2 separate regions of the Homo sapiens genome follow, and region 1 is linked to region 2. Evidence: fine-mapped expression QTL. A gene starts in region 2. The other region holds a variant in brackets. All regions are shown on one strand. Distances are between the middles of the regions. Region 1 overlaps ROR1 (receptor tyrosine kinase like orphan receptor 1). Region 2 holds the start of ROR1 (receptor tyrosine kinase like orphan receptor 1).

What was found. PIP is the estimated chance that this variant, and not a neighbour inherited with it, causes the effect. A credible set is the group of variants that fine-mapping cannot tell apart.
Region 1: its variant is the best candidate, but not a certain one, in a credible set for the expression of ROR1 in cerebellar hemisphere (GTEx, PIP 0.81).

Annotation. Positions count from the first base shown.
Region 1 is chr1:63,794,179-63,799,551 of GRCh38, reverse strand. The region is part of intron 1 of ROR1 (receptor tyrosine kinase like orphan receptor 1); the gene reads right to left. Among named protein-coding and RNA genes, the nearest start is that of ROR1, 23 kb to the right of the region's middle. RefSeq lists an enhancer at 4,109-4,768. The variant G/A (reference allele first, on the strand shown) is at 2,664.
Region 2 is chr1:63,771,171-63,776,543 of GRCh38, reverse strand. ROR1 (receptor tyrosine kinase like orphan receptor 1) reads right to left here and starts at 2,527. Exons shown (of 9, transcript NM_005012.4): 1 at 2,036-2,527. The coding sequence starts at 2,126. RefSeq lists an enhancer at 903-1,466 and silencers at 1,332-1,626, 2,411-2,460.

The DNA.
Region 1 (5,373 bases), 23 kb before region 2:
ACAAATGGGAAAAAAGCAGAATTGCACAATATTCCTGAAATACACTGTGATTAGCAACCAGCCATACAGACACTATGACAGGCATGCTCCTAGGCACTCAAGTGATAACATGGAATTCTGTCGCCAAGGAGGTTCCAGTGGCCTGGGGAACAAGACACAGCTAGCATTGGAGAAGTTTTTAAACACTGGTGAGAGAAGTCAGACAATGTAGGCTATGGCTAGATCATGATGAGCTTTGATCCACCATGGCCATGGCAATGGGGAGCCATTGAAGATATTTTTGAGGAAGGGAAATGACACAATGAAAGCTGTTTGTATGTCAACTTTATAATAAGAAAAGTGACTTGAACACCTACTACGTGCCAGTCACTATTATTCCAGGGGCTTTACATGTATTATCTCTAGTTTTCCTAGCAGCCTTTTAAGGTAGACATGATCATCTCTTCTTTACAGATGAGGCAAATGAGACTCAGAAACATTAAGCAAAAGTATTTAAGATTACGTGGCTAATAAATGATGATGCTGGGGAAGTTAATCCAGCTGTTGAATCAATAAAAGAAAGAGGTTACTAGCAGGGAAATTGACGTTAAGCCCCTGAATAGCCAAGATATAAAGTATGGTGCTGACACCAAAAATAGGAAAGTTTATAATGCATCTCACACAACACTTCATCTATTTTTTCAAAGTAGTCCAGAGATGAACCAGAGATACTTTTGCTTAACGTTTCTGAGTCTCAGTTGCCTCATCTGTAAAGAAGGGACGATCATGTCTACCTTGAAAGGCTGTCAGAAAAACTAGAGATAATACATGTAAAGCCCCTGGAATAATGGTTCATCTCTGGACTACTTTAGAGCAGCAATAAAGTAAATAGCCACAATGTGTTAAGTGATTACTATGTGCTGGGTACTATGTGTGATCAGGGCTGGGGATACAAAGGAGACATGCAGAGCAGTTAGTGTCTTGTCTATACTTACAAGGCAAAGTGATGGGTGGACAAGACAACAAACCACCCTGCTTACCTCCTCTCTATGGCAGCGGACTGCATGCTGCCTGGCTCAAGCCCATGTATAATACTAGGACCCATCACAAGGAGTCAGGTCTGTGGCCTCCTCCTCCTCCCCCAAAAACTGCAACCCCCACTGACTTGTTCCTCACAGGCTCTTGGTCCTGTTCTAGATTATTCTAACCAAGAGTACCTACTTAAGTTGATGGGCCCAGTGCAAAATAAAAAAGTGGGGCGTCTTATTGAAAATAATATCAAGAATTCCAATTTCCCTGCAGAGCGTCAAATCAACCAGGGGGCTCCAATGTGGATGGTCTGCGCAGTTGCACAGGTTGCATACCTATGAAGCTGGCTCTGATTCTAAACCAGTTCCTACTTCTCTAGATTGGTAACAATTGTATGCAGAGTGGAAAAATGCCTGACTGAGTCTCAGAAAATGTCTGTTCCATTCAAATCTTCATGATCAGGAGACCTACTGCCAAAAAGATAGCTTCTCAGCTCAATGAGAGCTGGCTGGCATGGCATGGGCTCATAAGATGAAGAATGCAGCCTCTCAAAAGGGCAACTTTCTCCCTTGCCAGTATATGGCTTCCAATGATTATGTGGTGCAGTATTTAGTGAAAAGGAATTTGGTCGTCTGTCCTCTCAAAGGTTATCCTGAAGATAGAGAACATGGAAAAAAAAAAAAAAAGACAAGACTACAATCAGTCCTGCTTTAAAACAACAACAACAAAGGTGTCCCTAAATTTAATATGTGAAGCTTAGTAAAAATGATAACCATAACAAACATCATTTGAGTGTTTATCAACTACCAGTGGCTATGCTGAATCCTTTTTAAAGATATATATAGCCCTCACAGCAACCTGAGATACAATATTCAAAACCGTGTTCATTTGCTTTCATAGAAGGGCTTGTTTCACTTGTTCAAATAGAGCTGAATTTCAGGTAGAGGAAGACCAGAACAAATAAACCCTACTAATTGTTTGACCTTGAGCAAGTTCCCTTCCCTTGCTGGGCTGGATGTGTTCACCTGTAAATGGAGTTTGTGGCCTGCATGCTTTTGAAAGTCCTCCGGACTCTGATAGTCTGTGATTCCCAGAGGAGGAACTCGGGAAAATTCATGACTCTCCGTTCAGCCTTCCCACACATGCTACTCCAGAGCACCAGAGAGACAAACCACAAAATCGGGCACAGCAGAAAAAAAGCTGGCCCCACAGCCAGGACACTGGGTTTCTAGCCTGGATCCACCAATTACTCATAGGATGACTGGGAGCAAGTCACTTCACCACTCTGAGCCTTGGTTTCCTTATCCATAAATTAATTAACAGATGCCCAAAGTCCTTTTTTGCAAGGCACAGTGCCTGGCACCTAGAAAGTTCTCGGCATGTGTTAGTTATTGTCATCATTATTAATTATTACGCCCTCTTCCAATAGTTCCCACCAGCTTCAAGTAAGAAAGAACCCTTTTAATGCAAAAATGAACTAGAGTCCTCTTCCCATCTAATAGGTTTAACATCTAGAATCAATTAATTAGAAAAAATATAGAACATCAAAAAATCACTATGAATTGTTATTCAATTCATCAAAGCACTTTCATATATGCTTGAAAAATGTGAAACATTTTTCTCATCACCGATGATGTTGGATTCTCAAAACCCTT[G/A]CAATGATACTGAGGAGCTGGGCTGGGGCCCGCTGCTCTCTGGACCACCTGCCAGCTCAGGGCTCGGTGCATTGCCATTTCCACCTTCAGTCACCTCGACTCTGCAACTCCTCCTCTCCTCTCTCCACCGCTGCCCTTACCACACTGTCAAGGCCCAAAACACAAAGGAGGCAAAAGGAAGAAATATGTATATCTAGCACTGGAACTGAATGTACGACTGCTTGTGCCTGTTTCTGCCTTTAAACCTTTTTTCTCACAAAGTACAAACTTTTAAAGGGTAAGAGATGATACACCCATTTTATGTAGAATGTTTGATGCAGTCTTGGATAAATTCTTCGTAACTATATTTTAATATGCATTTGGAAAAAAACACAAAATAATACATTACTAGAGCAGGAATGGTTCTTTAAAGCCATGGTTCTTTAATTTGCATATAAATCACCTGGGATCATGTTAAAATGCAGCTTCTGATCCAGTAGTTCTGGAGAGGAGCCTGAGACTCTGCATTTCTAACAAGCTCCCAGGTGATGTTGACACTGCCACTACACAGGGCTTGGTCCAACCTTATTGCTTTGCAGATGAGAACCTGAGGATCAGAGAAGGCAAGTGTTTTGTGTGGGGCCACACAGCTAGTTAGAGGTAGGGCTAGGAGATAAACTCAAGTTTATTGACTTTCAGTCCAGAGCTCTTTCTGCTATGCCCTGATGTCATCCTTTGTAGAAGGGAAAAATGTTTCTGAAAAAAAAAAATCCCATCGTCCTTTCCCATATAAGACAATACTACACACATATAAATATGCACATACATACAGGACAAGAGCTAAACTCTCTCTCTCCCAGTTTCCAGCACAGAATGTTGCCAACAAAAGATACTCAAAATACTATGTGTCGACAGATTAGTCTGATGGGGGTTTTAATGAAATGTTCTGATTAGAGTAATGCTTTTACCTTTGTCATCTCTAAAGACTCCCTTCTGAGCAGCCACCCCCATCTCCAAAACCTTCTGTACTTACATACTAAGTTTCCCCTAATGGCATTTTCTAAATTAAAATTTAATTTATGGGGAGAAAGTTCAAAACAAGCTATTGTTCTAAATCAATATTGAGGCAGAAGATAAGGCTATTCCAGTAGCGGCAAGATATTTTATGTTCCTGCATATCCTTTGCACTAGACCATCTAAGGCACGTGAAGTGTTTGAAGAGTAGTACTTAGCAGTCTAAGTGTTCAAACAGCATTCAAAGCCTCTCTGCCCTCCCACCATTCAGAATCACTCCAAAGGGCTTCTGTGGCTTGGAACTGTATTTTCACGATCTTAAGAGTTCAAGAGAGCTTACTCCATGAGCTTGCTCAGCTCAGGCCCAAGCACACGGCAGGTCCACAATATGTCCCTGACCCAGTGTCAGATCCAGCACCTAGAGTCACAAGTTTTCAAGGTTTCGACAGGATTTTCCTTAAAAGGTCAGAAAACATACCCTCCAAGGGAAGAAAAAATGGCTGTTTAGACTTCTTATTCTATTCTACCACTGGTTGAAATTAACAAATTCAATGCAAATACTTTGGATTTGAATCTTGCCACACTAGGAAACCAAGAGGACAGGAGGATAACACTTAAAGGCACAGCCAATTTTTCCCCTTGCAAGAGGGAACCTCCGGCATAGCTCCAAAGCCACAAGAGCCCTCTCAGCGGGGCTTCTGATGATTTCTAACTCGAAGAATGTAATCCATCAGCCCTCTGGAGCACCAGCCTGGCTGCCAACCCTCCCACCAGAACCTTCCTGAACCTGCCCTCCCAACCACAAAGTCCGCTTCCCTGGATGCAGGGTTCCAACCTCCCTTCACTGCATGGCATTCGAGGCTCTGCACACACAGGCAGCCTCGTCTGGGGTCCACAAGTCACTGTGCAGATCTCTCTTAAGGCATGTACCAAAACAAATTCTAATTCCTCCGGTTATTATGTCTCTCCACCCACCCCAAACGACTGCACCCCACCACTATCACCAGTTTCATGAGTGCGTGAGCCCCTAGAAAATGGATAATGTTCTGGACCCTGTGTATCCCAGCACAGTCCCGGGCATACAGTCAGGACTTACAAAATGGGAGCTATTATTCTTACATCATATTGATATGTTCCCTCCGCTGCTCCCTTCTTGCTCGCTGCTTCCTCCAGTGGGCTTCCTAAAACAAATTTAGGGCTGGAAGGGGCAGTCAAGCCACTGCATTTTACAGATGAGGAAATTGAAGAAGACCTTCAGGTGATTCCATCACTGCGGTCCTGCTAGCAGTCTAGCTGGAGAGCCGCCCTCTGGCCTCTGATAACAGGTCCTGAGCTCCTCCTCATTCTGTCTCTCTGGACCCAGCCAGCAGGGCACAGCAGGCCACCACCAGTGAGAGAAAGAAGCTGGTTCCTTCGTGGCCTAGTGCTGGAGGCCGGGGAAGCCAGTTTCGATGCCAGACTCAGGCACTGAGGAATTCAGGGTGGTTATTTCTGATCAAGGCCAGGGTGGGCCTCGGGTTCCTCACCTGGAACATGGTCATCTGAGCTCTTGTTGATGGACGACTCACCATGCACACTCAGGACATGCCAGTGACCGTCAGCATTGTCTGATTTTTGCCCTCACCAAAAGGTAATGAGGTAGATATGATTAGTACCCCAATTTTTACAGATGGGGAAACCGAAGCTTTGAGGTTTGCCTAAGATCACAGTTAGTTGA
Region 2 (5,373 bases):
GTGTAAAAATCCCTATCCTGTTCTGTTTCGTTCTGATTACCAGTGCATGCAGCCCCCAGTCATGTACCCATCATGACCCTCTCACGTGGACCCCCTTAGAGTTGTGAGCCCTTAAAAGGGACAGGAATTGCTCACTGGGTGTCTGAGGAGTTTTGTCTGTGGCTCCTCCTGCTACAATGGAATAGGCAATACCTTTTTTAAACAACTCTAAAAGGCTGTAAACAGTTAAAGGAGACAGAATTGGGGTGGCTGCTGATAAGAAGGGTGTTTACAGTGAGCAAAATCAATGCAGGGACATGTATTTAAAGGTAAGTGACCCCCACCCCCACAAGGGGCTATGATCTAAAAGCAACTATTGTTGAAAGGTGAAGTACAAAGTAAAGGAGTCCACAGGGGAAATAACTGAATTAACCAAAGCCCCAAGCCAGGAGTCCCACCTTAGTTAAAATCACCCTGCTTATCTCCACCTCAATTTGCTGGGCAACCCAACTTGAGAAGGATGTTTACATTACTTAGGCAGCATGGCCCATTTTTACTTTTCACCCAGGTGTTGTGGCGCAAGGCCAGATGTTTGGCATCACCAAGCAAAACATCTATGTGACCAAGCTGTTTACATTTCATTAGGATTTTTCATCAGGAAGGTGCACTCCCTGCTGATGCACATCTTAATTACAATTAGGAGCTCTATTTACCCCCAGGAGCTTTCAGATTAGCACGACCACATTATAGGATCCGTTTCAGAAATCATCCTCAGAAAATGCTACTCTAGCTTCCAAAAACCATCTCTAAGAAATCAAAATTTCACACAACTTCCTTCCAGAGTGTGTTTTCTACCAAGAAAGTCAGCTAACTTTTAGTAAAAACTAATTCTGCATTCGTAGTCTATGTAGTGAATACATCTTTTTCCTCTCAACTGCTAAGTAGCGCAGAACTTTTTCTTTTCCTAAACACAGTGCTAACTTAAAAATGAAAGATGCATGATAAAAGAGCAGAGATCTATTTATCCGCTCAGGTTTAGGGCTGGGAGTGGGGGAGGGCAGAATCCAAAGGCTCCTCACCCCCTCAAGGGATGCATGTTAAAAGTGAGGCCCGAGACCCCGGAGACTTTAATCAACTTTCCCCCTCCAACCTCCAAAGAATGAATCGGTTGTCTCCACAGGCTCAGCCGGGCTCTTCCCTCTCATTGTGTACCGGCTCAGACGCAGCAAGGACCCCAGCTTCCCGCAGCGAACTAAGACGCTCCGGCTTGCGGTGAAGTCTTTCTCTAACTGTTGCGATTGTCTTTAGAGATTACCAAAATCAAATATGCATTAGATGGCTTTTCCCCCTCTTGTTTGTAACACGCACACACACACGCGCGCGCGCGCGCGTGCACACCCAAAGCACTTTGGAGCCGCAGGCCGCCTCTGACAGCACATTTTGCACAAAGTGGCAGCGGCTGCAGCGGCGCACAAGTTTTGGCCTCTATGATGACTCTCGGGAGGGCCGGAGGGCCGGGGGCGGTGGCGATGCGAGGCCGCCGGAGCCCCAGGAGGACAGGGCTTTTGTTTGCGTCGATCCGCGAGCCGCCTGGGCTCTGGCGAGCACCACTGAAAATCCAAACTCCCTCCTGGACCGCGCCTTCCGGGCCGGCTCGCAACTTGGGGGCAGGATAGACTTGCCTGAACACCGGCTGGGGCGCGCTAGAGGTCCAGGGAGACAAGGGGGGACGCCCTGCACAGAAGTGCCCCGATCACCCCCAGGACCCTCAAACCCCTCCACGCTTCCTGTCAGCGCTGACAATCGCTGCTGCGCACCGAGGAACGAGTCCCTGGGCGCGCCCCGGCCCGCCGCGGGGCTCCGGGGCAAACCCTGGCCTGGCGGGGCTCCGGGGCAAACCCTGGCCTGGCGGCGCCGGCGAGCCCCGTGGCGGGTGGCCGGACGCGCCCCGGAGCCAGCGCGGCGCTTCCTGCGTGTCCCGCGCCCGGCTGGACGGCGGAAGGGTGGCCACGGGTCAGGGGGTCTGGGCGGGCGGGGGCCGGCGGGCGCCTCTTACCTTGGGCAGCAGCCCCGCGTGCGGCCAGCAGCAGCGCGGCCAGCAGCGCCAGGAGCGGCGGGCGCGTCCCGCGGCGGCGCGGCCGGTGCATTCCTCCTCTCGCTGAGGCGGCGGCGGCGGCGGCTCCCAGGCCGCGCGCAGAACATCCACGGGCTCTTCCCGGGCTCCCGGCCGCCTCGTCCCGGCCGCTGGCGCTCGCAGGACGCCGGGGACGTCTGCAAAGCTCTTTGTCCCTCTAACCTGCTCCCTCGCCTCCGCCTGGCCGCCTCTGGATGCCGCGAGCGCGATCCCTTCCCAGCCCTCTGGCTGCAGCCTCGCCTGGGCCGGCGGGTCAGTCCCAGGCTGTCCGGGTCGCACCAGTGGGCGTGAGTCGCCCTGGGTCGGACTCCGAGAACAGCGCACCCTGCGCCCAGGGGCTGCCGTCCCGGGGCTCCCTCGGCGGCGGCGGTGGCGGCTGCTCCAGCTCTCCACGCTCCCTCTCTCGCTCAACTTGTCACTTTCCACCAACTCTCCAGCCCAGCGCCCCAGCCCCGACCAATGGGAGACGCGGCCCAGGCTGGCGACCCAGCGCCCTCTGCTGCAGCCTCTCAACGCCCGCACCCTCCCCGACTTCGCAGAAAGCGGTCGCGGCTCCCGCGTCTCGGGCACGCTCCCTCCCCTCCCCTCCCCCACACTCCTCAAACTCGCCACCGAACCGAGCGCCGGGGACCTTCGAGGCTACTTGACAGAAGGGGAAACCGAGGCTCAGAGAGACTTATCCGGGATCTCAAGCCAGTTCGTGGCTGGACGACAGTAGACCCAGGTTCTAGCAGCCTCAGCTGTGTCACTGTTAGCTGTGTGACTCTGGGTAATGGCACATTTATTGCTATCATACAATTTCCCTTTTGCTTTCTTCTTGGACCCAAGAGTTGAGAGAGTTCTTACACAAGTAATTTATACTTCGCCTTTTTGTCTTTAATTTGTAGTCTCACTGAATTCAATGTCATCTGTACTGCCTCCTGGCAAGATTTATTGAGGATTATCTGTGGTTATTTTTGCCAATGTCCCATGGTTTTTTGAAAGGTGTTTTTGTCTTCCGAATGTGAAGATAGAATACTGTATCGATTTATCTTCTTTGTATTCATTATTTTTTCAGGCCTTCTGAATCTTTGCATGTTTGTTTGTTTGTTTGTTTTTTGTCTAGCTGCTCTGCCATGAGCCAAGGGATCATTAAAGACCTCTACAATGAGTGTGTTTTTGTCCATTTCTCCTGGTTTAACTTTATGGATTTTGTAATTCATAAATACCCATAATGATTTGACTTTCCCTGTAGAGACTGCCTTTGATCATAAAAAGTGGTGAGCGCCTGCTGTTTTCAGGGCTGTGCTCTAGGCTCTGAAGATGCAAGGGTAATAGGACACCTGTCAGTCTTGCTCTGGAGGAACAGGAAGAAGCCCATAGTCTCTCAATAATCACGTGGCCACTTACTAAATACCTCCTGTTTGCCTTGTGTTTTATATGCATTTGCTCACAAATCCTCCATTGACACTAAAAAGAGTCATTAAAAGTATATACTTCTTAGCTGTTTTACATATATTATCCCCATATTACAGTTTTAGAAATTGAAACTCAAAGGGAAAGTAAATGACTTGCCCACAGTCTCACAGACATGGGGTAGCCAAGCCAGCACTCAGGCTGTTTCCACTGAGAGAGTTAAAGCCTGTAACCAGAGCCTGGCACATGATAAGCACTCACTCGGGAGTTGTTGCTGTTGCAGTAGCCTCTAAGAACCCAGCTTTAGGGTTTTAAAATGAACAGTCACTTCATGGAGGGCGAGGACTCTGTCTCAATCATCTAGGTATCTTGCTGGCCTCTAACAGTACCTGGAATGCAATAGGAGCTCAATTAATGAACAAAGGTTAGGTCACCATTTGGAAAATATTAATTTCTCATCATATTTGTTTTATAGGGGTGCATGGAGGAGGGACAAAATTTCATCCATACTCCTTGGCACCAGGAAAAGCAGATCCCTGAGAGCTGAGACATTAGAAGGGGGAAAAAATGCAGCCCAAAGTATGTCCCAGCAGGTCATGGACTCCAGACTCCCAGCCCTTTGCCTTCAGGCAGGTGAATGACTAACCCATGCGGGACAAACAGTCACTTATTCTTCTCCAGGACTTCATGGCAGGAGCTGTGTCGGTAGTTTTCCCCCTTTCTATCGCTCTGACCTGAGGTCAAAAAATGATAGACAGAGAGGCCTTGGGTCAACCAGTTCATTACCTACATTGATCTGTCCCCCAAGTTTCTCTGCCTGAGATCTATTCAATCCTGTCCCAATTATCTCGCTTCTTGCCTGAGGAACTTACTGCACAAGGTTCTCTTGTTGGGAAACAGTCTTTGATGGTCAGTCTTAGTATATCACAGCCCAGAAATCAGAGGATACTCAGTTACACTGCACAGTGCTGGGCAGTCCTCTGTTGTCTACAGTCAATACACACAGTTGTCAGACAAGGAGCCTTTCTCATCCACCCACCCTGCCCCCAGCCCCCACCCTATAACTCCTAGGCCCAGGTATCTTAGGTAACAGACAGCTGCTAGTGCTGAGTATACAGAACTTAATGGCACTTTTATCAGTACTTAAACTTCCAGGAACTTAATCACAGAATCATAGACATAAGGAATGTGAGACCTGGAAAGGGCTTTGGAAATTAACTAGTACACCCCCCTCAACATTTTATACAGGAGACATGTGGGACTTAGGAGAGTGAAACCGCCTTGCCCAAAGCTGGCCAGAGCCAAAACTAGGACCTAGACCTACCAGTCCAGACCTGGGTAAGGACCATCATCAAATCATCCCAGATTCCTTCAGTTTAGCTATAGCACACAAGTTTCCAAAGAAAAGGTTAGCAATGGCCTGGCACGGTTGCTCATGCCTGTAATCCCAACACTTTGGGAGGCCAAGGTGGGTGAATTGCTTGAGATCAGGAGTTCGAGACCGTCCTGGCCAACATGGTGAAACTCCATCTCTACAAAAAAATACAAAATATTAGCCAGACGTGGTGACACACCTGTAATCCCTGCTACTCGGGAGGCTGAGGCATGAGAATTACTTGAGCCTGAGAGGCAGAGGTTGCAGTGAGTGGATATAGCGTCACTGCACTCTAGCCTGGGCAACAGAGCAAGACTCCATCTCAAAAAAAAAAAAAAAATGCTGGGGTGGGGGGGTGTTAGAAAAGGCTTTTCCTGTTTAAAAAAGTAAAAGAGGTAAAATATATATAATATGCAAAATATATATATGTGTATATGTATATTTATTTATTTATGCAAGTTCAGTAAATGCCAATGTTTAAGAGCACAGG